Homo sapiens: one gene and its partners. The protein of the gene in region 1 interacts with the protein of each later gene in a biochemical or structural test. Each region holds a gene or a part of one and is shown in the gene's direction. Other genes may lie near its edges. The genes, in order: TLK1, PPIE, NPHP1, CSAG1, C1orf87, UBR2 and RALGPS1.

Region 1 (3,285 bases):
CAAATAACTGAGGAAGATTTTAGAACACAAGATATTTGGATTTTCGGTTTTGGGAATTCGCTTAAACAGAAATGATATCTGTGTTTAAATATTTTGTGAGAAAAGTATCTCAACATTTAATTTTTTTTTTAAGCCATTTGGTCACAATCAATCTCAACAAGACATTCTTCAAGAAAATACAATATTAAAAGCCACAGAAGTCCAGTTCCCTGTAAAACCGGTTGTAAGCAGTGAAGCCAAGGTATTAAATTTTTGTAAATGAGTTTTGTGAAGTAACTTTTCTTTCATCAGTTGTGCTGACAACAAGGTAAGTACTTTCCAGTAAGTAAAGTCACAAGACTCGCTGCTGCAGGGGATCTGTCCAGCAGGGGCTGGTGATTTACTTTCAGAGAAGGAGTTGCATCAGCCTCTGGTTGCTATAGTTTTTATCTTTTAAGCTATGGTCTCTGATTGTTTATGTTCATCAGCTGCTACTTTGAAAATTAGGGAAAAATCACAAGATCTGGGCTCATCATTACCTTTTATGTATTATTTTATCTGCTTATGTTAATACTGAGATATATAAGTATATAAGAAATATTAAAAGTAATAATAAGGCTGGGCGTGGTGGCTCACACCTGTAATCCCAGCACTTTGGGAGGCCAAGGCGGGCAGATCATCTGAGGTCAGGAGTTTGAGACCAGCCTGACCAACATGGTGAAACCCGGTCTCTACTAAAAATACAAAAATTAGCCAGGCGTGGTGGCACACATCTAGAGTCTCAGTTGCTTGGGAGTCTGAGGTGGGAGGATCACCTGAGCTCAGGGAGGTCAAGGCTGCAGTGAGCCATGACGATACCGCTGCACTCAAACCTGGGGGACAGAGTGACACCCTGTCTCAAAAAAACCAAATAGGCCATGCGCGGTGGCTCACACCTGTAATCCAGCAATTTGGGAGGCCCAGGCAGGCAGATTGCCTGAGCCCAGGAGTTCGAGACCAGCCTGGGCAACATGGTGAAACCCCATCTCTACTAAAAATACAAAAATTAGCCCGGTGTAGGGGCCCGTGCCTTTAGTTTCAGCTTCTCAGGATGCTGAGCTGGGAGGATCGCTTGAGACCAAGAGGTAGAGGTTGCAGTGAGGTGAGATCGCACCACTGCACTCCTGCATGGGCGACATAGCAAGACCCATTCTCAAAAAAACAAAAGAGATAAATATTCTTATTTGAAAGCAAAATGAATTATTTTTGTAAGATAAATATGACTCCTTTAAAAATATTTTAACTGTGCTGACATCTAAATCTTGTCTTATTTTCTGTCTGTAGCCTCATTGAGAACAGAAATTAAATGAATTTAGTTGATTCATGATCTGTTTGTTTAATACTGACTGAAAAGACCAGGAGGAGTGGAGTTGCCAAAGGCAAAGTCTCATTTAGCCATTCCTGGTTCTCTCCTTAGGCTCTTAATAGGCACCACAGTCACCTTTTAGAGATCTGGAATCCAGGAAGGGTTAAGGGGTTGTTGGGGGGATATAATATTAATATGATACAATTATATGATATAAATTTTAATATTTTAATGTAATATATAATATCTCTATATTCTGTATCCCTACAGAAGATACCTTTGCCAAGTACTTTCCCTGACTTGGTGTGGGCATCTTTAAGTACATTATTTGTTGCAGACTTAACCTTAACCTTGCTATTGATAGCCTTTCCACTCCTCAAACTCTAACATATCAGTCTTGATGTTTTTTTCCCTCTTAATCATTTTTCAAAGTGATCTCTGAAACTTTGTTAAAGATAAAAAAGATAAGTCCTCTAAGGGATCAGATTGACTTCCAATAAACAGTAAGCTATGGTAAAATGAGAATAGCTAGGTATATTTTTAGAGAAAAATATACTTCTAATGAATTTCAAAGCAAAGAAAGTGCAAAATAGTTACCTTTTAATGTGATTATACTTCTGTTTAATGGTATGTATTAATTTCTAGTGTCAGCATTAAGAAAGGGAAACAATTACCAGTTACCTCCTGAGAATATTTTATCTGTTCCCTCCCCCCCCAAAAAAGGATGAACCTCAAAATTTAATATTGGGTGAAAGAGGCCTGGCAAAGGAGAACATAATTTATAATTCTATTTATATAAAATTCAAACAATCAAAACTCAACTATGGTTTTAGAAGTCAAGATAAAGGTTAACCCAGGTTCGACTGGGGACAGAGCCAGTGCCTGGAACTGGGCATGAGGGGGATTCAGAGGTTCTTTTTCTTGATCTGGTTGCCAGTTACATAGATGTATTTACTTTGTGCTATGCACTTAACGATTTGTGTGCATTTCTAAAAATGTGTTACACTTCAGGAAAGGTTTTTTTTTTTTTTGTAAGAGGCTATTCTCAAAGAAAAACTGAGTAAAATTGGTTTGAGAAAAAAAAAATAGTGATTATATTCTGTTTATTTAGCTTTTCCAGGAGTGTAATGATGCATAGGGTTAACCTGGGAAACAATGTCCCTAATGAAAGTGTCCCTTCAGTGATCTCTTCATCTAAAGAAAGTCTTTATGTCAGTAGGAAAAAAAAATAATGGTTGAAAATGGCATCTTACCCTTTGCTAAACTGAAGTGATAACAAAATGGGATGAGGGTGGGAGGACTGTTTAGCAGAAGAAAAATGCTAGAAAAAAGTCTTCAGAATTTCGTAAGCAGAAACAACTTTCCAGTATAAGTTCAAATGGTTGCAGTAGTAATTTAGACTGTAAAGTGAACCACTGCAGGGGCTTCAAGCAGTGAGTTGCATTTGGAGTGAGAATTTTCTAGCTACAGAATTTTTTTTTTAAGGTTTGAACTTCCAATAAAATGAGATCTACTTATGTCTTAAATGTGTCCATCCTTCTGCTGATTCAGTTGATTGATATTTAGAAGGGAAAAAGATCATTAATTGCTAACATTTCCTTTCTCTTTTTGAGGCATTTATAAGACGCTGTTTGGCATATCGAAAAGAAGATCGATTTGATGTGCACCAGCTGGCAAATGACCCATACCTTCTCCCACACATGAGAAGATCAAATTCTTCAGGAAACCTACACATGGCTGGGCTGACAGCATCCCCTACACCCCCTTCTTCAAGCATAATTACTTACTGACTTTCCTCCAAGATTGGCATGATATCTTTGAATTTGCTTCCAGATGCACACTTAAGTTTGAGAGCATTTGAGTGTTTGTTTTCTTTTTCTTTTTTTTTTTTTTTTTTTTTTACACAAGACGTGGTTAAGAACTGTTTGTGAACTGAAGTTCCTCATAGTGTCATTTGTATG
Region 2 (3,500 bases), on another chromosome or scaffold:
CTGTTTCAATAAATGACTCCACCATCCACTTAGCCGCTTGATCAGAAACTTAGGAGTCATTGTGGACACACACACACATACATACATGTACACATACACACACAGACACACACATATACATGTACATTCTCTTACGTGACAAATGTCCATGTTACCAGGCCTCACTGTGTCATAGCTGTCATTTTGAATGGCTCTTTTCCACTGATTGTGAGCTCCACCAGAGCTTGGACTATGTTCTGCTCATCAGTGTTCCCAGGGCTTAACAGGGACCTGGTTGTCAAGTAGACACTTAATTGTTAAATAAATGAATTAATGAAAGAACAGACCAGTATAAAGTGATTGAAACACCTCACTTACCATTTCACTGACTATTAACTGAATCCAAGATAAGGTGGCCGCATTTGCATGTGATCTGTGCATCCCCGAGTCTGAGCCTGACTGGCTGAAGGGCTGTCAACAGCCTGCACAGACGTCCTTTAAGGGCTGGTAGCCAGGGTTCGGGGAGCTGATGGTTGTTCTCTCCCTCAGGTCTACTATCCATGGCCAACTCTGGCCCAAACACCAATGGCTCTCAGTTCTTCCTGACATGTGACAAGACAGACTGGCTGGATGGCAAGCATGTGGTGTTTGGAGAGGTCACCGAAGGCCTAGATGTCTTGCGGCAAATTGAGGTATGTGGCCAGGAATGGGCCTCCTCCTTACCCAGGCCCTAGGAGCACAGCCCTGTGTGAGGGCTGGAGAGTCTCTGTGGCCTGAGAGAGATGGCCAGGGGCTGTGTCCAGCGGGAGGGGCTGCTGCTGCCCAGGTTCCGGGGTGGAAGTGGGCAAATGGGCAGGCAGGGGTTGGTATCCCTAAACCACTGTTAGTCTCCGGCCTTACTCCCTCACTTCTATTCTGCCACAAAGGCCCAGGGCAGCAAGGACGGGAAGCCAAAGCAGAAGGTGATCATCGCCGACTGTGGGGAGTACGTGTGAGGCGGCACTCTCTCTGCTTCCCCCTCCGCTCTTGACCCTGCATATCCAGGAAGGAACTGCCAGCCTCAGAGGAGGCAGCACCGAGGGTGCCTGTTTGAAGCAAGCAGCATTTGGGATATGTGCCCTTCCTCAGGGTCTGCTTGGAGCAGCTCCTCTGCAGGCACAGCCTGGACTATTCCCAGGCACAGCTGTGGGCCCAGGAGCCAGCTCAGGTGCTCCCCTCCACCATGGGCAGGCTGTGCAAAAAGCCACTGGCTTTTCTCAGCATTTGCTGCTGGGCCTCTCCTGGGACTACCAGTGTGGCTCTTACGTGTTTTCTTTGCTAAAATAAACCCTAGTTCTTATATTGCTCTTCCTGCTAGTTCTTGGGAGTTGTCAGAGATTGTGTCTGTGGCTAAGCTGGACCTCTGAGGCAGGCTGGTGAGTGGGGAGAGCAGAGCATCTTTTTCACAGCTTTCATTTCCTCCCTTGGGCCGATCCCCTTAGATGTCAGGTGATGTATCTTCACACCAGGCATCGATGTCAGGGCAACGGAAATTAAAGACTGGAAAGCTCCGGTCTTCTGCTGCCTCTGCTCCTAAACCCAGCTGCCGGCCTTACAGCCAGCAAGTGTACTCTCAGTGGTTCATTTGTTTATTTGTTCACTTTCACCCTACAGATTTTAAAAAATGAAATTTTTATAACTCAAAGTGCCTTCTCTGTGCCAAGTACTATGCCTATTTGTCAGGAGACAGGAAGCCAACAAACTACATGTGCCTAATCCAGCCCACTGCCTGTTTTTATGAATCAGGTTTTATTGGAACACAGCCACGTCCATTTATTTACATATTGTCCATGGTGGTTTCTTACTGCAGTGGCAGAGGTGCGTAAGGGGCTATAGACACAATACAGGCTATGGTCCCTGTATTAGGGTTTTCTAGAGAAGCAGAACCAATAGGGTGTGTATATATGTAGAAAGAGATTTATTTTAAGGAACTGGCTCAAGCAGTGGTAGGAGCTGGCAAGTCTGCAATCTGCACAACAGACCAGCAGGCTGGAGACTCAGGAAAAAAACTGATGTTGCAGTTCAGCTCTGAGGCAGTTTGGAAGCAGAATTCTTCCTCCAGTGATCTCAGTCTTTTTTCTCTTAAGAATTTCAACTGATTGGATGAGGCCTACCCACATTATGGAGGGTAATCTGCTTTACTCTCTACTGACTTAAATATTAATCCATCTAAAAAATAGGCCAGGCATGGTGGCTCATGCCTATAATTCCACCACTATTGGGAGGCTGAGGCAGGAGGATCACTTGAGCCCAGGAGTTCAAGACCAGCCTGGGCAATGTAGAGACCCCCATCTCTAGGGGGAGAAAAAAAAGCCAGGTATGGTAGTGCACACCTATAGTCCCAGCTACTCAGAAGGCTGAGGTGGGAGGATCGCTTGAACCTGGGAGGTTGAGGCTGCAGTCAGCCATGGTCATGCCACTGTACTCCAGCCTGGGTGACAAGAGGGAGACCCTGTCTTGAAAAAAAGAAACCATCATCACAGCAACATCTAGACTAGTGTTTGACTAAAAACTGGATACCATGGCCTAGCCAAATTGACACACAAAATAGACCATCACAGTCCCAAGGCCTAAAATACTTACTATCTGAGCCTTTACAAAACAGGATTGCCAGCCACTGAAGAGAACAAATGGTCCCACCCCCTGCTGAGCTCACAGTCTGGCTCTCCTGTGTGCAGCCACTTCTTGGAGCTGGCTTCTCTCCACTCCCCCTCCAGATGCTGGTCAGCCAGGCGGTTATAAAGAATCTCATCTGCTGAAGGCTTTTAGCAGGGACTGAGTCCTGTAGCTGTTGGACACCTCCTGTGGGTTGGGTCACTCAGACCATTCAGAATCCACTGAGCTGAGCTTTTGCATCTTGGATTGAGATCTGGATGAGCCAGGAGGCAGGAGAGGCTAGGTGGTCCTCATGACCCTAGGATAGCTCTTGCTGAGGGATGGTGGCATTCTGCCCTACCTCTGGCTCCCATGTGCCGACTGGACTTTGTGAGCTCCAGCTGCTACAGTTGACTGAGTTCAGGCTCCATGTAGCTGGGATATACTACATGGTTACCCCTCACCCCTATGGAGCTTCCAAAAGAGACCCTCCCTCAAAGCACAGCCCCTTCTCTGAGTGCAAATAATGGCCATCAGAGGTCAGTCACAGGTGTTAGGCAGGCATCTATGAAGCTGGGGATGATAGCACTGACTTCAGTGCTTGGACGAGAACCAGGAGAGAGTGTGTAGAAAAAGCACAGCCAGCCTCCCATAAAAGGACAGACTCCTGTGACAACCTTGTCACTCTGTTCCTCCCTGATACTCTGGGGAGGTGGAGGCCAGTGGGCAGTTCTGAAAGCTCAGCAGGTTTGGAGCCATTGGGTGTGGACTCCTCTCCCAGTGTTCCTCCTGGGTGTTCACAGATGTTATTGAATGCACACTGGAACCCTGCACAGGTAAACTGAGGCTTTATTGGCGTGACTGCCAAAGGTCACACAGGGTGGTTT
Region 3 (3,500 bases), about 61 Mb from region 1:
AAAGCTTGCTATGGGCAAGCACTGTTCTAAACACTTTGCAAGTAGTAACTCATCTTAATCCTCATGACAATCTTAGAAGGCAGGTTCTATTATTATCTCCACTTTACCAATGAGAAATGGAGAGCTTAAAAGAAGCCTACTCAAGGTCACCCAGCAAAGAGGGAATAGAGCCAGAATTTAAATTTAGCAGAGCCTATGCTCTAAGTACTTCATAATAATGCTTCAACAGCATTTTCTGAATGGATGAATCCAAGACTTGAATTCGGAGTCTCCTGGCCTCAAGTCCAGTGATGCTCTGCCATCTCACATACATGACTCAGCTCCCTCTCCGCCTCAGTCTCTCCAGGCACACGGTCTTAGCTAGATGGTAGAAACTGTTCTTTGTATTTTCCCTTATTTCTTTTATTTGCCAGCTCCAAATATGGGATATTCATGTATATGTAGAAGTTACACTCATAGCTGGTCTGTTCTTGTATATTATTTCAAGTAGTCCTACTCAGAAACACTTTTTGTAGAGTTGGGGCACCTACTGAAGAAGAGGAAGAAAGTGAAAGTGAAGATAGTGAAGACAGTGGTGGGGAGGAAGAAGATGCAGAGGAGGAAGAGGAAGAGAAAGAGGAAAATGAATCTCACAAATGGTCAACCGGTGAAGAATACATCGCTGTTGGAGATTTTACTGCTCAGCAAGTTGGAGATCTTACATTTAAGGTAGGTAGAATAAGACTGAAACCTAACCTAAGGGTCGATGTCCATACCTAACAGAATAAGAAAACTCTGCCTGTACACCTGTATTACAGATTCTTAAAATGCAGTTTTATAACAATCTATTTAAATAAGTAATAATTACAATTTACAAGCAGTAGTAATATGAGATTGTGTTACTAAAGTTACCTCTTCTAAAGATTTTTGAAAGTAGCTTTAATGTTGAGAATTCCTAATTTAGGGGTAAAATTTTATAATTTGTTATTGAATGTCATGTATAAATTCATTCAAGTGAGTTAGGCAATGTCCATAGGTGGAGGTAGAAGGGAGCACTTCCTGCCATTTTGTAGCAGTCTTTCCTGTTAGCTTAGATATGAGAGGGGCTTACATCCATGCTTGGTTGGCCTGGGCATAAATAAGTGGCAGGTGGGACAGAACAATAAAGTTGTGATTTTTAAAGTTGTGATTTTGAGCCTGTGTTTTCTGCTAGAGAAATGAGCCAAAGAAATTTAAGTGAATATATGAATTTTAGTTCTTATATTAAACTTCAAAGTTTAGTAACTGATTAATAATAAAATACATAAGAATATTATGCAAATAATTATATGGTTTGATTTATAGATTTTTTTTTCAAATTCTCCTGGAAAATGGTATCAATATTAGACAATAATGTATATTTTAATTAAGTGTTTGCTTTTGTAGTGTCCTTAGTGGTGGAAATGCTTTTGTCTTCAAAGATGAATTTTATTTTTATAAATGAGTGAGTGTTATTCAAAACATATCTGGTGAATTAAGTGGGTAATTATATTCAGTAAATACTATTTTTGCTCAAAAATAGGGTTTAACTTTAATGGAATTGATATTCTTTGGGAATTTATATGCTGCTTCTGAAAGACACTTTTCCAGAGATATTAAAACATTCAAAAATATTTTACGCAGTAATTGAATTTTTGGAATAAGTATGGGGCCTTAAAAATGATTGTGAAAAATGGTTCCCATTTGCATAAATGGCTCAAGTGTATGTTAGGTAACCAAAAGGAATGATTCATTAAACTATGTCACATTTATGGTTTTAGGTGAGTTAGGCAGAATACATAGGGGTCGGGTGATAGGGAAGCTTTTGATAAACCTTAGGATAAATATTGGATTAAAAAAAGATTTTGCCTTTTTTTCAGCACATATTTTGAATCATTGGTATTGACATATACTCATGATTATTGAATTTTATTTAAAATGGTTTACTTTGTTTTGCTTTAAGAAAGGGGAAATTCTCCTTGTAATTGAAAAAAAACCTGATGGTTGGTGGATAGCTAAGGATGCCAAAGGAAATGAAGGTCTTGTTCCCAGAACCTACCTAGAGGTTAGTCTTGGTTTATGCCTTCCTTTTCTAAGACTTTTTTTTTTTTCGCTTTTAATAAAACATTTAGCTGTGTTCTTTTGTCAGTTGACTAGTGAATGACTTGAGATATAGAATTTGCTTTAATTTTGGAGGGACAGGACCTGGGAAAAACATTGTGTATTAATGGTCCTGGGGACCTGTGAAGTGCTCTTACGCATGTGAGCCCTGGAACGTGATCTCACAATGAGGGGATGCTTTGTGGATTAATGCTGATCATAACAAATAATAGGTGTCTATTGTTTATTGTAAAACATAACTGCAGTTAACTTTGTGTTAACTTCCACAAATATGTGATCCCCTTACTAAAATGTGAACATACTATACATGTGTGTTTGTAGCTTGTATTTTCTTATTTCATAAAATAACATGGTCATTTTCTGTGCCAAGATATATAGATTTCTGTCTGGATCAGCACTGTCCAGTAGAACTATGATGCAAACCACACATGTAATTTAAATTTTTCAGTAGCCACACTGAGATATCTTTTTGCTGATGCCACTTCTGACACCAAGTATGTGGTTTTTCTCTGACACCAAATATGTGTTATTACATCAGTTCTTCTACACCAACCGGTGTCAGCAATTCAATTCGATTCTGATGCTAATGCCTGGAGCTAGCACAGACCCCCACAGGTTAAAGGCTCAGTCCCACAAGATTGCTGCTCACTTCCGTTGCCAGTCACAAGTCCCAAGAGCCACCCATACTTCTGACTGACTGGCTATACATTCACGAGTTCCCATACCATCACCTCAGGGGTTCAGTAATTTACTAGAATGATTCACAGAACTCAGGAAAACACTTTCCTTGCATTTACCAGTTTATTATAAAGGATGCAACTCAGGAACAGCCATAGAGTGAGGTATTGGTTGGGGGTGGCTGGCATGCACTCTCTGGGCCTTCCACCTTCCCAGCACTTCGCTGTGTTCACCATCCTGGAAGTTCCTGGAACCCCATCATTTAGGGGTTTTTCTGAAGGTTTCATTAGCCATGTTTAACTAAATCATTAGCAATTGGTGATTAACTCAGTCTCCAGCTCCTCTCCCCTCTTTGAAGGTTGGAGGGTGGGGCTGAAAGTTCTAACCTCTAATACCTGGGTTGGTTTTTCTGGTAACCTGTCCCCTTCCTGAAGCTGTTTAGGTGCCCACCTAGAATTACCTCATTAACATAAACTCAGGAGTGACTGAAGGGGACTCTTGATGAGTAAGAAAACATACTCCTATCATTCAGGAAATTCCAAGGGTTTCAGGAGCTCTGTGCCAGGAATCAGTGACAAAGAACAAATACATGTTTTTCATTACACACATTTTTAAAAAGTAAAAAGAAACAGGTAGAATTATTTTTAATAATATATTTTATATTATCCAGTATATCAAAAATACTATTTTGACATATCAATATT
Region 4 (3,738 bases), on another chromosome or scaffold:
ACAAATGCCTCTTGCCATTGTCTTAGTCCGTTTGGGCTTCCATAACAAAAATAGTGTAGACTAGGTGGCTTATAAACAACACAACTTTATTTCTCACATTCTGGAGGTTGGAAAGTCCAAGATCAAGGTGCTGGCAGATTTCATGTCTGGTGGAGTCCTGCTCCCTAGTTCCTAGACACCTGCCTTTTCCCTATGTCCTCGCATGGAGGAAGGGGCAAGGGATCTCTGTGGGGACTATTTTATAAAAACACTGATCCCATTCATGAGGTCTCTGCTCTCATGAACTAGTCATTCTCCAAATACCCCACCTTCTACCTAATACCATCACCTTGGTATTTCAGCAGATGAAGTTTGTGGGAACACAAATATTCAGATGAAAGCAAGCACGGAACCACCATTACAGTATTACCATACTAGTTTCACTGCCCTGATAAATCCCCTGTGCTTGTCAGATAACCCCCTTGGCTGCCACTGATAGGTTTTTCATCTTTATAATTTTGCCTTTTCCTGAATGTCATATAAATAGACTCGTATACTATGTAGCCTTTTTAGACTCGTTTCTTTCTAGACTCGTTTCTTTAGACTCGTTTAGCATAATGAACTGAAGAGTCATGTAAAACTTTGTGCAGCTTGTAACTTATTCCTTTTCATTGAGGAGTAGTAGTATCATTGGGTGTACCATATTTTAATGCGTGTGTGTGTGTATGTGTGTATATATATATATATATAATCCATTCACCAAATGAAATACATTTTGGATGCTGCTATTTTTGGTGATTGTGAAATAAGCTATTGTATACATTCATATACAAATTTTTATGTAGACATAAGTTTTCAAATCAATTGGGTAAATTGATTGAGTATGGCTGCTGAATCTTACGCTAAGTCTATGTTCCGTTTTTTAAGAAAACGCCAAATTGTCTTCCAAAGTGGCTGTGCCATGTTGCATTTCCACGAGCTATGAATGAGAGTTTCTGTTGCTCCACATCTTCCCTGGCAATTGGTCTTGGTTTTGTTTGCTTTGTTTTGCTTTTTTATGGATTTTGGACATACTAATAGGTGTGTAGTGGTATCTCATTTTAGTACACAATTATCTAATGACAAAACACGCTTAGTACATTTATTATGCTTATTTGCCATGTGTGTATCTTCTTTTGTGTAGTGTGTGTTCAGATCTTTGACTATTTTCATTTTTTTCTATCGCTGAGCTTTAAGAATTCGCATATATTGTAGAGACAAGTTCTTTATCACATATGTGTACCGCAGATGTTTTCTGCTAGTCTGTGGCTTCTGTTTTCATTCTCTTAACATTGTCTTTTGAAGAGCACATGATGTTTATTTTAATAAAATCAACTTGGCAAATTTTTCTTTCCTTGATCATGCTTTTGGTGTTGAATTTAAAAACTCATCTCCAAACTCAAAGTTATGTGGATTTCTCTCATGTTTTCTTATAGAGGTTGTATTGTTTTTGCATTTTTCATTAGACCTATGATGTATCTTGAGTTAGTTTTCATGGAATATGTAAGGATATGTCCAGGTTATTATAATTTGTGTATAGGTGTCTAATTGTTCCGACACCTTTTGTTGGAAAACCTGTACTTTCACCATTATTGCCTTTGTTGTGAATCACCTGACTATATGTGTGCAGGTCTATTTCTGAGCTCTATTCTGTTTTATTAACCTATGTGTCTATTCTTTGCTAATGCTTATGTCCTCCACCAAATTCATATTTTGAAGCCCTCAGCCCCAGGGTGTCTGTATTTGGTGATGAGGCTTCTAAGGAAGTGATTAATGTTAAAAGAGGTCATAAGGGTGGGGCCTTGATCCCATAGAATTAGTGTGGTTATAAGAAGGGAGAAGAGACAGAAGATAGCATTTTTGTGCCTGCATGAGCTCGCTGTCTCTCTCGCGCGCTCTCTGCACATGCACAGAGGAAGGGCCAAGAATGGACATATTGAGAAAGGGCCATCTACAAGCCAGGAATAAGGCCATCACCAGAAGCCAACCCCGCCAGTCCTTGATCTGGGACTTCCAGACTTCAAAACTGTGAAAAAAGATAAATTTCTGTTGTTCCAGCTACTCAGTCAATGACATTTTGTTATTCTAGCCTGAGCTGACTAGTACATAACCTCAGGTAACACAATTTTTTTTTGTTTCCTCCTAGAAAAAAAGCCCGTAATTTTGGCATTTAAGATTGCGGTTCATTTTGAGTCACATTTTTGTACGGTGCAAGATATTTGCAGTGGCTAGTATTATGTGTCAACTTGTCTAGGCTATACTGCTCAGCTGTGTGGTCAAACAGTAGTCTAGATGTTGCTGTGAAGGTATTTTGTAGATGTGATCAACATTTACAATCAGTTGACTTTAAGTAAAGCAATTTAACTTCCATAATGTGGATAGGCCTCATCCAATTAGTTGAAGGTGTTAAAAGACCAAGGTTTCTTGGAAAAGGAATTCTACCACAAGACTAACATAATAATGTCGTGTGAGTTTCTAGCCTGCTGGCCTGCCTTCACTGTCCTGGGGGAAGCTCGGGGAGACCAGGTGGACTGGAGTAGACTGTACAGAGACACTGGTCTGGTGAAGATGTCCAGGAAACCACGAGCCTCCAGCCCATTTTCCAACAACCACCCATCAACACCAAAGAGGCGAGGAAGGGGAAAGCATCCTCTCATCCCTGGCCCAGAAGCCCTATCAAAGTGAATGGCCCACCCAAGCTCTGACTCCTACCCTGTCCTCCCCTGGCACAACCCCCACCCCAGCCTGTACCATTTCTCTATGAAACCCCTGTTCTCACCCCTCCTCCATCCTCTTCCCCAAACCAGTGCCCTCCTGTGATCTCCCTGTTGGCTTTCCAGGTTCCCAAGACAACCCAGAAGGGAAAAGGGACCCGTCAAGGAAGTTCCAGGAACAAAAGGCTCTCCCTAAAAGACCACCGCTTCAAAAAAACCTGAGGAATGGAGTGGGCCAACACTATCCAGCCACTCTGACCAGCCGAACGAGGAACTCAATCAAAATGCGCCATAGCAGGACCACAAGGGCAAGGAGACCACCGCCTTCTCCAGTGCTTCCTTGGGCAGCCAGTAATTCCCAGGCAAGGCCAGAGACTTCAAGTCTATCTGAAAAGTCTCCAGAAGTCTAACCCCAGATAAATAGCCAACAGGGTGTAGAGTACGTTTTACACCCCAAAGGGTATGCCCCATGGTGATGGAAATAAAATGAACATGTTGTAAAATGATGTGTGTGTCTGTGTGTCTCAAAGGTTGGGGGTAGGGCTTAAGGGGAAGAGGTGGGAGTGTGGGAAGGGATGGGGGGATCCTCTACAATTTCTTTAAATTCAAATTGCTCTTTGTTCTTTGGATTCCTAGGGTGAAAGTTTTGGTTATTGATTTTAGATTTCATTTTCTAATATAAACATAAAATATGCTATACATTTCCCTCAAGGAAACACTTTAGCTGAATCCCATTTTTGTATGTATATTTTTATTTTCATTCAACTTAATGTATTTTTAAAATTCTCCTGAGACTCCCTCTTTGACCCATAGGTTATTTAGGAGCATATTTTAAAATTTCCAATATTTGGGCATTTTTCAGATATCTTGGTGTTTGGTTTTGAATTTAATTATATTATGGTCTAAGAAGAGGCTTTTTATTATTTCTATTTTTTTTTTCAATTTGTAAGCTTTGTTTGATGGCCCAGAATACCATCTATCCTGGGAAATATTTCATGCACACTTG
Region 5 (4,049 bases), on another chromosome or scaffold:
GTGAGCCCCTGGAGGGGAGCTGAGTGTGCTGTCCACCTCTGGCTGCATGTGCCAGTGGGTGATATATTCACCTGTAAAGCACAGTACAGCTAGAGGTTAGGAGACAGGGGAACAGATGCTGGAGCTGCTGCTGCCTATGTTGATGCAAATAACAATACCGTTTGGGAATCAATCTAAAGTGTCTTTGCCTGCATCAGCTGAAGTTTCTTTTAGCATAATAACAACTGTCTGGAAATGTAGGATATGCAGATCTATATTCTAATCTTAGCTCTGTACTTGCTTTTGCAGGATTTGGAGTAGTTTATCAATACCCCAACTTGTTTCTTTTCTCTTTAAAATAAAGTAAAACTATTTTGTTTATAACTATTAACTTGTGAGGTGAGAGTTATCCAGCTTGTCATAGGGATCTGGCATAGAGACAGTACTCAACGTTATTATTATCAATCTATAATATTCTGGTTTTTTTGTTTCTTTGTTTGTTTGATATGGAGTCTCGCTCTGTTGCCCAGGCTGGAGTGCAGTAGTACCATCCTGGCTCACTGCAAGGTCCACCTCCCAAGTTCAAGCAATTCTCCTGCCTCAGCCTCCTGAGTAGCTGGGATTACAGGCGCGCACCACCACGACCGGCTAATTTTTTGTATTTTTAGTAGAGACGGGGTTTCACCATGTTAGCCAGGATGGTCTCAATCTCCTGACCTCGTGATCTGCCCACCTCGGCCTAACAAAGTGCTGGGATTACAGGGGTGAACCACTGAGCCCGGCCGATATTCTTATTTAATTTAGTCACCAAATCGCAGTTAGGACAGTGTTATTATTTTGCCCCGTTTCACAGATGAGGAAACAATCTCAGGGAAAAGAAGGGATTTACTCAAGCCATACAGTGGAGACGTCTGGATTTGAACCTACTGTGTTGGAATCTCAACTATGTGCAAACTCACAAAGGGAAATGAAGCCTTCGGAGGAAGGGCGGGACAAGGGTGACCACACAGGTGAGCGAGATGGGCTTCTAGAAGGACGCCCGCATATCTCTGAGGAACAGAGAAGGCACAGATCAAAAACACCTAGGCTCTTCACCCGTTGGCAGCCAGAGCCTGGGTCCATTGCCTAGGCAGTGGAGAAAAACCTGGTCCCCGCCCAGAAACAGCCTTCAGCGTCCTTAGCGACCAGGGCGGAACAGGCGCCGCCCGCGATGCGGGCCCTGTGATTGGCCGGATTCCTGGGCTCGGTCCCCACGCCCCGTCCCGTCCCCGGGTCTGAGAGTGTCAGCTTCCTGGGGAGAAGCACGGACCGCGCACCTCTGAGCTGCCAGGGTGGGGACGCTGCCCTAGCGGTAAGCCCCCCGACTCTGTTCTCTCCGGGCAATCAGGGCCGACACGCAGCTGCTGGGCAGGGAGGGGATTTGAGGATCACGAGTTCCGGGTCTGGAAGATTCCAGACAGGTGCAAAGAGGCTGCAGGTCCCCGGGATGAGGGGCTGCCCTAGCACAGGTCTTTAGTATTGGACTTTTGGGAAGAACCCTGGCCTAGACATCAGACCCAAGTACTGGAAACAGTCCCGTCCTTCATTCCTCTGTGACCCTTGTCAAATAACACACCCTCTCTGGGCCTTAGTTTTCCAATCTGTGAAGGAGCCTTTGGAGTAGAATGATTTCTAAAGGCCTTTCAGCCTCTGGGTGGTTCTAAAAGGGAGTGTTCAGCTGTGGCCAGATTTACTGAACTTCTGATTTTCCCTTGGCATCACTCTGTTTAAACACCTTGTGCAGGAGTTCAATTTCAGATTCATTGTATTGTTGTAGAAAGAGATCAGTGATAACAACAAAAGTCTGTCTGTCTTGTGTACAGTCTCCCTTCAGATGCATTATCTCCTTGGATTCACCCTCAAGTCCCTGAGAACAGACCTAGAATTACCCTGATCTCATAAATGGGGAAACTAAACATCAGAACTGAATATGGATTCTTCATATGTCCCACTAATGCCCTTGTTTCTGCTCTGACCTCACTGGAATTCCATCCTATGTCTTGTAGTACAGGAAGGTAGAGTCACCTAATGATTCAGTAGATCTGCTGTACAGACCTCTTAGGTGAGATTCCCAAGTCGGCTAATTACTGGTGATGTGATGTGATGTGAGTAAGTCATATAGCTACATTTTGCTTGTTTCCTCAACAGTAAAACAAAAATGATAATAGTAGTTAAAAATATCTTTCTCATGCCTTTGTTAGGAGTGTTAAGTGAGGTAATATAGGTGAAACACTTTGTCCTGCTATTATTATTGCTTGTTGTTATTGGCAAGGATGATGCAGTTCCCTAATGGAAAATCAAGAGGAACAATTTACTTATTTTCACCCCTAGGGATCTGAAGGGATTTTGAAAGGAATCATGTCTTCAGCCTGGAAGACTCCCCGTGGATCAGATGCAATGCCTGAGATCATGGTGAAAATCATTGGAAGTAAACACTTTCAATACCTCGTGGAGAAGCCAAAGATGTAAGTCCATATTTGAAAAATATCTATGTTGCTTGGATGATAATGAAGTTTTATTGTTTTGTTTTCACCCAGAAATTTAAACTTAAAAAATGCCATCCATGGAAAACGAAGTCATTAAGATGCAACAGTAGAGGTAAAATCGTGTTGATAACTTCCATGTGCACTGTTTTCCTGATATTTTTCATCTTTATAATTCCCCATACTCCTTAATTACTTGGGCTGATTTTCCAAATAGATGGGAAATATGAGCATTGCGACATTTATAAATATTAATGGAGCACTGCTGCCTTTTCTCATCGGGCTTGTAATCTACCACATGTACTAATTTTGGGGAGAGTGGGGGAGGTTTAATAGTCAATTTGTTGTGAATTACAGGAGTAGGATTAATACAGAATCATAAATTGTAAGGTTTTCACTTACTCCTGTTTGTATTTGATACTCCTCTAAGCTTGGGCTTCTCAGATCATGGCTAAGATCTCTTTCTTCTATTCCAAACCCATCAGAGTCACATTTAAGAGATGACACTCCTGTATTTCTAATATTCACCAGATGTTTCAGCACAGAACAGTATGACTAGCTCTTTCTTACAGAGTTTCAGTGGCTCAAAAAAGGAGGGAAGGTACTAGATCTGTCTTTCATATAGTAGGCGTTCCATAAGTAATAGCTAGTCAAAAATTACTTTTCCTTCCTAAGATTATTTCCTTAGCTCTATCTTCTATTTCAGAAACTCATAGACTGAACAAATATACAAAGATATGGTATTGTTGAACATAGGTGCAAGAAGAAATTTTTGCTAAACCTAGCTGTCATCAGAATCACTGGGAGAGACCTCAAAAATACAGATTCAGGAACCAGCTCAAGGTCTGCTGAATCAAAATCTCTGAATGTAGGTCACCAAGACTGCTGTTATGAAGTACAGGCTTTAATAAGGCTTTAGAAAGGCACATTAGTTCTACTTCCCTACTATCAGTATTGTAAGGTCTAGAGGGATTCCAAAGTGACTGCTATAATCAGTTAGTAATGTCTGCCACTGCACAGGAACTGAGGTTTGCAGCACGTGATTCATACATTTGGGATCCCTACAGTGCTGAGAGGTGTGAAATTGAATCTTAGGTCTGATTCTTTCTTGCCTTTTTGACATTGGGAAAATGAATTAACATCTTTGGCCTTAGATTCTACATATATGAAGTGGGGATAAAACAACACCTATCTAGTAATAGGGTTATTGTGAGGATTAAATGAGAAAAAGTATGCAAAGCACCTTTCCAGTGTCTATTATAAATAACATGCTTAGTAAATAATCCTGCTATTATTATAGAAGTCTTTCTATAGATATAAAAAATGTAACAAAAAATCGAACCTCTTTCTCTGAAATGTTTGATGTCCCTTTTATATTCTATGCCTAGGACACAGTTTATGTCTGTTTTGTAGATGAGGAAACTAAGACACTGTGATATGGTAAGCGATTATTTTGAGATATGTCAAATCCCTGTCACTGTCAAGAAAAGTAAATAGAATTAGTTTGGACACCTGGCTCAGATCTCCTACCTGGAAAACTATATTATT
Region 6 (3,500 bases), on another chromosome or scaffold:
GGTGAAGCGCCAAAAAATTCTCCTAGCATACTAGCTATGCTGGAAACACTACAAAATGCTCCCTACCTAGAAGTCCACAAAGACATGATTCGGTGGATATTGAAGGTAAAATTTCCACATTCCTCTGCTTTTTGTGAGAAATATTGAATATTTGTTATGTGTACATTGTGATCATATTTCATACAGGATACTGATACTTTTTTTTTTGTAGACTTTTAATGCTGTTAAAAAGATGAGGGAGAGTTCACCTACCAGTCCCGTGGCAGAGACAGAAGGAACCATAATGGAAGAGGTATAAACAGTAAAAAGTGTGATAATACTAAAAAATTACAGCAAGTTCAGTATGAACAAAATAAATTTATCTACATTAAGTTGCCAGTTACTCACAACATTTAAATTCCAAGAAATATGCCACTATTTATCTCTATTTGTTGTAGCAATTTTTTGTCTGCTTTTTTTCTTTAAAACAAGTCAGTTTAAGAGTCTTTTCTCTTATTTAAATAAGTGAGATTATAGAATAGTTTTTTAATTGGTATTTACAGTGAAGATATTTCTGCTTTGGAAAAAAATGTGCGTTTTAGCATCTAATTGTCTAATTGAATGGAGCATAATTTCAGAGTTCAAGGGACAAAGACAAAGCTGAGAGGAAGAGAAAAGCAGAGATTGCCAGACTGCGCAGAGAAAAGATCATGGCTCAGATGTCTGAAATGCAGCGGCATTTTATTGATGAAAACAAAGAACTCTTTCAGCAGACATTAGAACTGGATGCCTCAACCTCTGCTGTTCTTGATCATAGGTAAAAAAAAAAAAAAAAAAAATTAATGTCTTGACGAGTTTTTCCCAACTAGGGGCAGTGTTGCGTTTTCTCCTTGTAAGTATACTTTTAATCCTAAAGTAATTTAGTAGAATTCATAGGTAAATTTTGTGACCTCCATTTAGAAGATTTAATCTTAGAAGTCTCTGAATGTAGGTATGGTAAGTCCTGTGTACACCTGGTAGGGTATTTTCTGCAGAAGACCTTGGACATTCATGAAAGAATGAGTACACTACACTCAGTTACCTAGAGCGTATGACATCTGTGTTGAAGATTAGATTACTGTGAGGATTAAAGGAGATGGTTTTGATACATACCAAAGACTTGACAATCCAAGTTATCAAAACCATGTGTTAAATATATACATTCCTGGCTGTGCGTGGTGGCTCACGCCTGTAATCCCAGCACTTCGGGAGGCCAAGGCGGGCGGATCACAAGGTGAGGAGTTCGAGACCAGCCTGACCAACATGGTGAAACCCCATCTCTACTAAAAATACAAAAAAAAAAAATTAGCCGGGTGTGGTGGTGCATGCCTATAATCCCAGCTACTCAGGAGGCTGAGTCAGGAGAATTGCTTGAACCTGCGAGGCGGAGGTTGCAGTGAGCCAAGATTGTGCCACTCACCCCAGCCTGGGTGACAGAGCAAGACTCTGTCTCAAAAAATAAATAAATATATATACACACACACACACACACACACACACACACACACACACACACTACACACACACACACATACCTGTAGTCTGCTATTTTGTGATTATATAGAAAGTTTTGGGATCATTAATTATATTCATAACCTTTGTATTGCAGCCCTGTGGCTTCAGATATGACACTTACAGCACTGGGCCCCGCACAAACTCAGGTTCCTGAACAAAGACAATTCGTTACATGTATATTGTGTCAAGAGGAGCAAGAAGTTAAAGTGGAAAGCAGGGCAATGGTCTTGGCAGCATTTGTTCAGAGATCAACTGTATTATCAAAAAACAGAAGTAAATTTATTCAAGATCCAGGTAAGTCATAGCTAGATCCTCATCTTCCCTTTTAATAACAACTGCCAGTTAATGTGGTTGGTGATACGTTGAGATTTTTTAAACCTAAAAATAACTCCATGGACTTGGATGGTATCTTTGGCAGGTAACTTAGGCAGGAATTCCCCACTTGGCAGATGTGGAACCACTCCAGAAAGTTGCACCTGAATCACATAGCTGATAAATAGCAGGGATTCAAAGAAAAGCTTTTCTTTGTGATGTAACATTACATACTTTGGCATTTCACAGTCTTTTCCATCCTTCAGTACACTTGCAAAGTCCTGGTCATTTGTTGACACACTGAAATAATAATTGTTTTGTCTTATTGATAGAGCCTGAGTGGAATCTCCTGAGAACAGTGATGGAGAGTTACCTATGTAAGAGGCAATCCTTGAGCCAAATTGTTTTAGAATAGTAATACCACCACAGATCGGGTTCCCCAGAAAGCAGATTCTTGGGATACAGATTACCGTGCAGGACAGTTGAGGGCCCTCTTTCAGCAACTGAGGGAGTAAAGCAGGGAGATCCAGTCCGCACATGATTTTGTCCACCACAGACACATTTATTTCTCTGCTTGTAGGTTGTGCTCTGTGTGCGTGTGCTTCAGCGATACCCAGTAAACTTCTTGAGAGTAGGAACTGTGTCTTGGGAATTCCCAGAGCACTGCTTTAACCAGTGCCTTTCACACTGCAGCGTGAAAGGAGGTTTGAGAGCCCACTTTTAGAGTTGCCTTCTCTCTGTAAAGAAAGTCTTTGCATCCTACTTATGAAAGGTTGGTCTGCTTCATCTTTAAAAATGGTCATTTAGGCTGGGTATGGTGGCTCATGCCTGTAATCCCAGCACTTTGGGAGGCCGAGGCAGGTGGATCACCTGAGGTCAGGAGTTCAAGACCAGCCTGGCCAACATGGCGAAACCCCATCTCTACTAATAGTACAAAAAAAAAACTAGCCAAATTTGGTGGCACGCGCCTGTAGTCCCAGCTACTCAAGAGGCTGAGGCATGAGAATTGCTTGAACCTGGGAGGCAGAGGTTGCAGTGAGCCGAGATTGCACCACTGCCCTCCAGCCTGGGCAACGGAGCGAGACCCTGTGTGGTTTTTTTGTTTGTTTGTTTGTTTGTTTTTAAAAAAAAAAAAAAAGGCCAGGCGCAGTGGCTCATGTCTGTAATCCCAGCACTCTGGGAGGCCAAGGCAGGCAGATCACAAGGTCAGGAGATCAAGACCATCCTGGCTAACACAGTGAAACCCCATCTCTACTAAAAAATACAAAAAAAAATTAGCCAGGCGTGGTGGCAGTTACCTGCTACTCGGGAGGCTGAGGCAGGAGAATGGCGTGAACCCAGGAAGCAGAGCTTGCAGTGAGTCGAGATCGCGCCACTGCACTCCAATCTGGGCGACAAAGCGAGACTGTCTTAAAAAAAAAAAAGATATTTAAACTAGGTGCTTTATAAATTTCATTCCAGGCCAAAGACAAAGTTGCTAATTTTATTTAACTTATTACTTCTGAAGAAAAAGCATTAGCTGGCTATAAGTGGATTTTCTTAATGCTTTGACATTTGCACTGTTCTAGTGTTAAAGCAAATTAAAACTATTAAAGCAAATTAAAAGTAGTTCTTTCTAGAGTGTTAGGAAATTTCGAAGATTATACTAATTTATA
Region 7 (3,500 bases), on another chromosome or scaffold:
ATAAAAGGCAGGGCATCTTCCTTTATTCAGCACTGCTCATTGCTTTCCAAATATTTCACCTTCATATAAGCCCCAAACTAGAGTTCCTGTTCCTCCCCTTCTGCCAATGCAATACATTGTCAGGCTAAATTTTTTATTTTTTTACCATCTGTTGTAATAAAAAGATATCTCCTTTTACTCTCATTTGCATTTCCATTATTACCAGTGGGGTTAAGCGTCTTTCCTTATTGTTACTGGCCATTTGGAGACTCTGTTCCTTGAATTTGCCTTTCATATCTTTTGCTTGTTCTCTCTGTGTGGTTTGTCCTTTCTTACAGATATTTGAAGTTCTCTGTGTATCTGAAAGCTAATCCTGTGTTGGTTTAGGGGTGACACATACCTTCTCCCAGACTGTGATTCGCCTTTTAACACTGATTTTGATGTCGTTTTTGGTCGGTTGTTTTGGTACAGACATTTAAATGTTGTCAAATTTATTCATCTCTTCCTTTAGGATTTGTGTTTTTTCTTTCTTCCCTTTCCCCAAGATTATAATGATTGTCTCCTATTTTTTTCCCAGTAGTTTTGCTTTTCACATTTGTGACATTAATCCACTTGCTTAACATAAGGCAGGACTCTAATTTTGTCTTTTTCCACATGGAACCCAGTGGTTTTGCCCCTCATCCTGAAAAGTTCCTCCTTTCCCCACTGACTGGTAATGCCGCCACCATCAGGAAGCATGTCGGGCTCTCACTTTGTATTCACTGAACTGTGTCTGCATCCATGCCCAATACCACACTCTTTGAATACTACTGCTTTAGGTTTTGTTCTGCCATCCAGTAGGGCAAGTCTTGCACTGTTTTTCTTCAGAATAGTCTTGGCTACTCTGTCTTTTTTCTTTTCCATCAGGTTTTTTTGTTTTTGTTTTTTGGGTTTTTTTTTGTTTTTTTTTTTTTTTGAGATGGAGTCTCACTCTGTCACCCAGGCTGGAGTGCAGTGGCACGATCTCGGCTCACTGCAAGCTCTGCCTCCCAGGTTCACGCCATTCTCCTGCCTCAGCCTCCCGAGTAGCTGGGACTACAGGCACCTGCCACCACGCCCGGCTAATTTTTTGTATTTTTAGTAGAGACGGGGTTTCACCGTGTCAGCCAGGATGGTCTTGATCTCCTGACCTTGTGATCTGCCCGCCTCGGCCTCTCAAAGTGCTGGGATTAGAGGCGTGAGCCACGGCGCCCGGCCTCCACTGGGATTTTAAGAGTGGCTTAAATGGCCAGGTCAGGAAGAACTTTGAACACCATGTCATGGATGATTTCAAGCAAGGCGGTGACATGGTTAGCTTCACGTTTTTCAAATACTTATGAAGCTGTGCTTGGGTTAGATTTTAGAAGATCAGACTGGAGGCAGGAAGACAATAAAATGTGGGGGCCCAGACCAGTCAGTGACAAGAGAGGTGGGCAGGGAGGGGCTGTGCAGAGTCTGGAGGCCATGATGACTGTGCAGCAAGTGAGGAGGGAAAGGGAGGAGAGAAGAGGCAAGTTGCCGTGTGGCAGGAGCCGAGGGTGGGCTCCCATTCCAGGCCAGGCGACTGGGCAACCCACAGTGCCTCCAGCCAAGGCTGGAAACAGGAGAAGGAGTTGCAGGCTTAGCCTTAGCTGTGCTGCACTTGATGCATCTTAGGAAAGGGCAGATGGAGGGATGGTGCCAAGAGGTGGATGTATGGGTCTCAGGCTCAGAAAAGAGGTCTGGGCCAGGCCTGGTGGCACCCTCCTGTGATCCCAGCTACTCAGGAGGCTGAGCTGACAGGGTTGCTTGAGCTGGTGAGCCGGGGAGGTCGAGGCTGCAGCGAGCCATCATAGCATCACTGCGCTCCATCCTGGGTGACAGGGCCAGACCCTGTGTCAAAAAAAAAGAAAAGAAAAGAGGACTGTAGTCAAGATTTAAGAGTCATCAGCTATCCAATCAAAGAAAAAACAGGAGCCAAAGAGGGAGTCCTGTGTGGACAACTCCAGCATGAGGGGTGTTAGAGGAAGAGAAGGATCTCACGGAAGAGGTGGTGACAGTGATTGAAGAGGCACAGGGAGAAGCAGGAGAGTGTGGCATAGTGCCTGCCAAGGAAGGAGGGCATTTTGAGAAGGAGTGACCCCGAGCACCAGGTGCCAAGGGCTCTGGGAGGAGGCTGACGAGCCTTCATTGATTTGGCAAGAAGGAGGTCAGTGGATGTGTCATTAGGTACAGAAGTCAGAGCTGAGTGACTGGAGGAGCACAGACCTCCATTTGCTGGGAAAAGATCCAGTGAAGGACCTTGGCTTACAGGGAAAGAGAGACTAGAGCTTGCCTGTAGGCTGGGGGAAGGAGCCAGAGAGAGAAGGGGAAAGTGAGGCAGGGAATTATCAGAGGAGACGGGTAGGACCTGAGAGAAGAGAAGGGCCCCGGCCTGGTGGGAAGGCCAGTGTGAATGGAGGTGTGCATGGCCACTGCAAGGGTGGCTGTGAGAGAGATCCCACCTGACATCCAGTGTTGTCACTGAAGTAAAGAGTGGCAGCATTTGAAAGGGGTGGGGTCTTGGAGTTGCCCGGGGGCACTGAGGAAAGAAGTGACATTTTGGAATGTTATTGAGAATAAGAAAGTTGGCTAAGGCTTAATAAAGGGATTGGTGGGGGCGGATGAAGGAGAAGGTGCCTGTGCAGAGTGGGGTTGGGAAGGAGGGGGGACAGCAGAGAAGACAACTCATGGGAAGTGAGCACTCAGCCAGCACAGGAGCTCAGAACTGGAGGTGATGCAAGTGCCCTTGCCTCCTGAATCTGCCAAAATGCCAGATGGGCCAGCCTTCCCACAGTATACGGGCTGGGGGTGTGGGTCATTATTTTGGACATTAAGATGACCCAAGCAGGCTGGAGGACATGGGAACCTGTAGGCCACTGGTGGGTCTGTAGGGCCTTGTGTTGGAGGACCTGGAGGTCTGGGTGGGCTTGGGCCTTATGGGTCCCCCCAAGAAAGTTCTCCAGCCATGGCCAGGCAGCCACCCCCTTGATCTGCTCTGCATTTGGTGTTCTCTGCAGGAAGCAGCTGAGCCCCTTTGTAGAGTCACTCTTTCCCACCCCCAGGGCCTGACCCAGATAGCCAGAGCTAGGCGAGCCTCTGGAGTCACCTCCCTTAAAGACCTCCCTTCCCAAGCCACAGAAACTAAAGAGTGCCACAGTGGCCAGGGTCACATTCCTCCAGACATGGCTGAAGACATGGCCAGCATGAAGGATTTGGCCTCAGTGTCTGTGTATTGTGCACAGTGAGGTTTGCGCCCCTAACTCCCTGGCTCTGGTGACCTGTTAGCCCCATGACTGGGTTGAGAAGGACATGGTAATAATTACCATAATAAATTAAGTATGAGGGCTAACTATGAAAGTCTGCGTACATTACCTCATGGACTTCTGACCACCTGCAAGGTGAGTTGAATTATTCCCACTTTTCAGATGAGGAAACTGCAGCTCAAGGGATATGTTCAGTAACCTATCCATGGTCCCAGGTAG

What was found.
Region 2: the proteins of TLK1 (region 1) and PPIE form a complex in vitro, tested with the Homo sapiens proteins (one large-scale study listed by BioGRID).
Region 3: the proteins of TLK1 (region 1) and NPHP1 form a complex in vitro, tested with the Homo sapiens proteins (one large-scale study listed by BioGRID).
Region 4: the proteins of TLK1 (region 1) and CSAG1 form a complex in vitro, tested with the Homo sapiens proteins (one large-scale study listed by BioGRID).
Region 5: the proteins of TLK1 (region 1) and C1orf87 form a complex in vitro, tested with the Homo sapiens proteins (one large-scale study listed by BioGRID).
Region 6: the proteins of TLK1 (region 1) and UBR2 form a complex in vitro, tested with the Homo sapiens proteins (one large-scale study listed by BioGRID).
Region 7: the proteins of TLK1 (region 1) and RALGPS1 form a complex in vitro, tested with the Homo sapiens proteins (one large-scale study listed by BioGRID).

What each region holds. Positions count from the first base shown.
Region 1 is NC_000002.12:170,993,609-170,996,893, reverse strand, and holds part of TLK1 (serine/threonine-protein kinase tousled-like 1), read left to right. Parts: intron 1-133; coding exon 134-241; intron 242-2,937; coding exon 2,938-3,114; 3' UTR 3,115-3,285. UniProt on the Homo sapiens protein: Rapidly and transiently inhibited by phosphorylation following the generation of DNA double-stranded breaks during S-phase. This is cell cycle checkpoint and ATM-pathway dependent and appears to regulate processes involved in chromatin assembly.
Region 2 is NC_000001.11:39,752,382-39,755,881, forward strand, and holds part of PPIE (peptidyl-prolyl cis-trans isomerase E), read left to right. Parts: intron 1-528; coding exon 529-671; intron 672-905; coding exon 906-974; 3' UTR 975-3,500. UniProt on the Homo sapiens protein: Involved in pre-mRNA splicing as component of the spliceosome. Combines RNA-binding and PPIase activities.
Region 3 is NC_000002.12:110,167,014-110,170,513, reverse strand, and holds part of NPHP1 (nephrocystin-1), read left to right. Parts: intron 1-515; coding exon 516-708; intron 709-1,960; coding exon 1,961-2,062; intron 2,063-3,500. UniProt on the Homo sapiens protein: Together with BCAR1 it may play a role in the control of epithelial cell polarity. Involved in the organization of apical junctions in kidney cells together with NPHP4 and RPGRIP1L/NPHP8. Does not seem to be strictly required for ciliogenesis.
Region 4 is NC_000023.11:152,726,984-152,730,721, reverse strand, and holds the end of CSAG1 (chondrosarcoma-associated gene 1 protein), read left to right. Parts: intron 1-2,497; coding exon 2,498-2,648; coding exon of another isoform or gene 2,649-2,699; intron 2,700-2,858; coding exon 2,859-2,928; 3' UTR 2,929-3,238; downstream 3,239-3,738. UniProt on the Homo sapiens protein: May play an important role in maintaining centrosome integrity during mitosis.
Region 5 is NC_000001.11:60,070,971-60,075,019, reverse strand, and holds the start of C1orf87 (uncharacterized protein C1orf87), read left to right. Parts: upstream 1-1,249; 5' UTR 1,250-1,330; intron 1,331-2,349; 5' UTR 2,350-2,376; coding exon 2,377-2,483; intron 2,484-4,049.
Region 6 is NC_000006.12:42,658,029-42,661,528, forward strand, and holds part of UBR2 (E3 ubiquitin-protein ligase UBR2), read left to right. Parts: coding exon 1-105; intron 106-211; coding exon 212-292; intron 293-617; coding exon 618-796; intron 797-1,627; coding exon 1,628-1,827; intron 1,828-3,500. UniProt on the Homo sapiens protein: E3 ubiquitin-protein ligase which is a component of the N-end rule pathway.
Region 7 is NC_000009.12:127,190,782-127,194,281, forward strand, and holds part of RALGPS1 (ras-specific guanine nucleotide-releasing factor RalGPS1), read left to right. Parts: intron 1-3,500.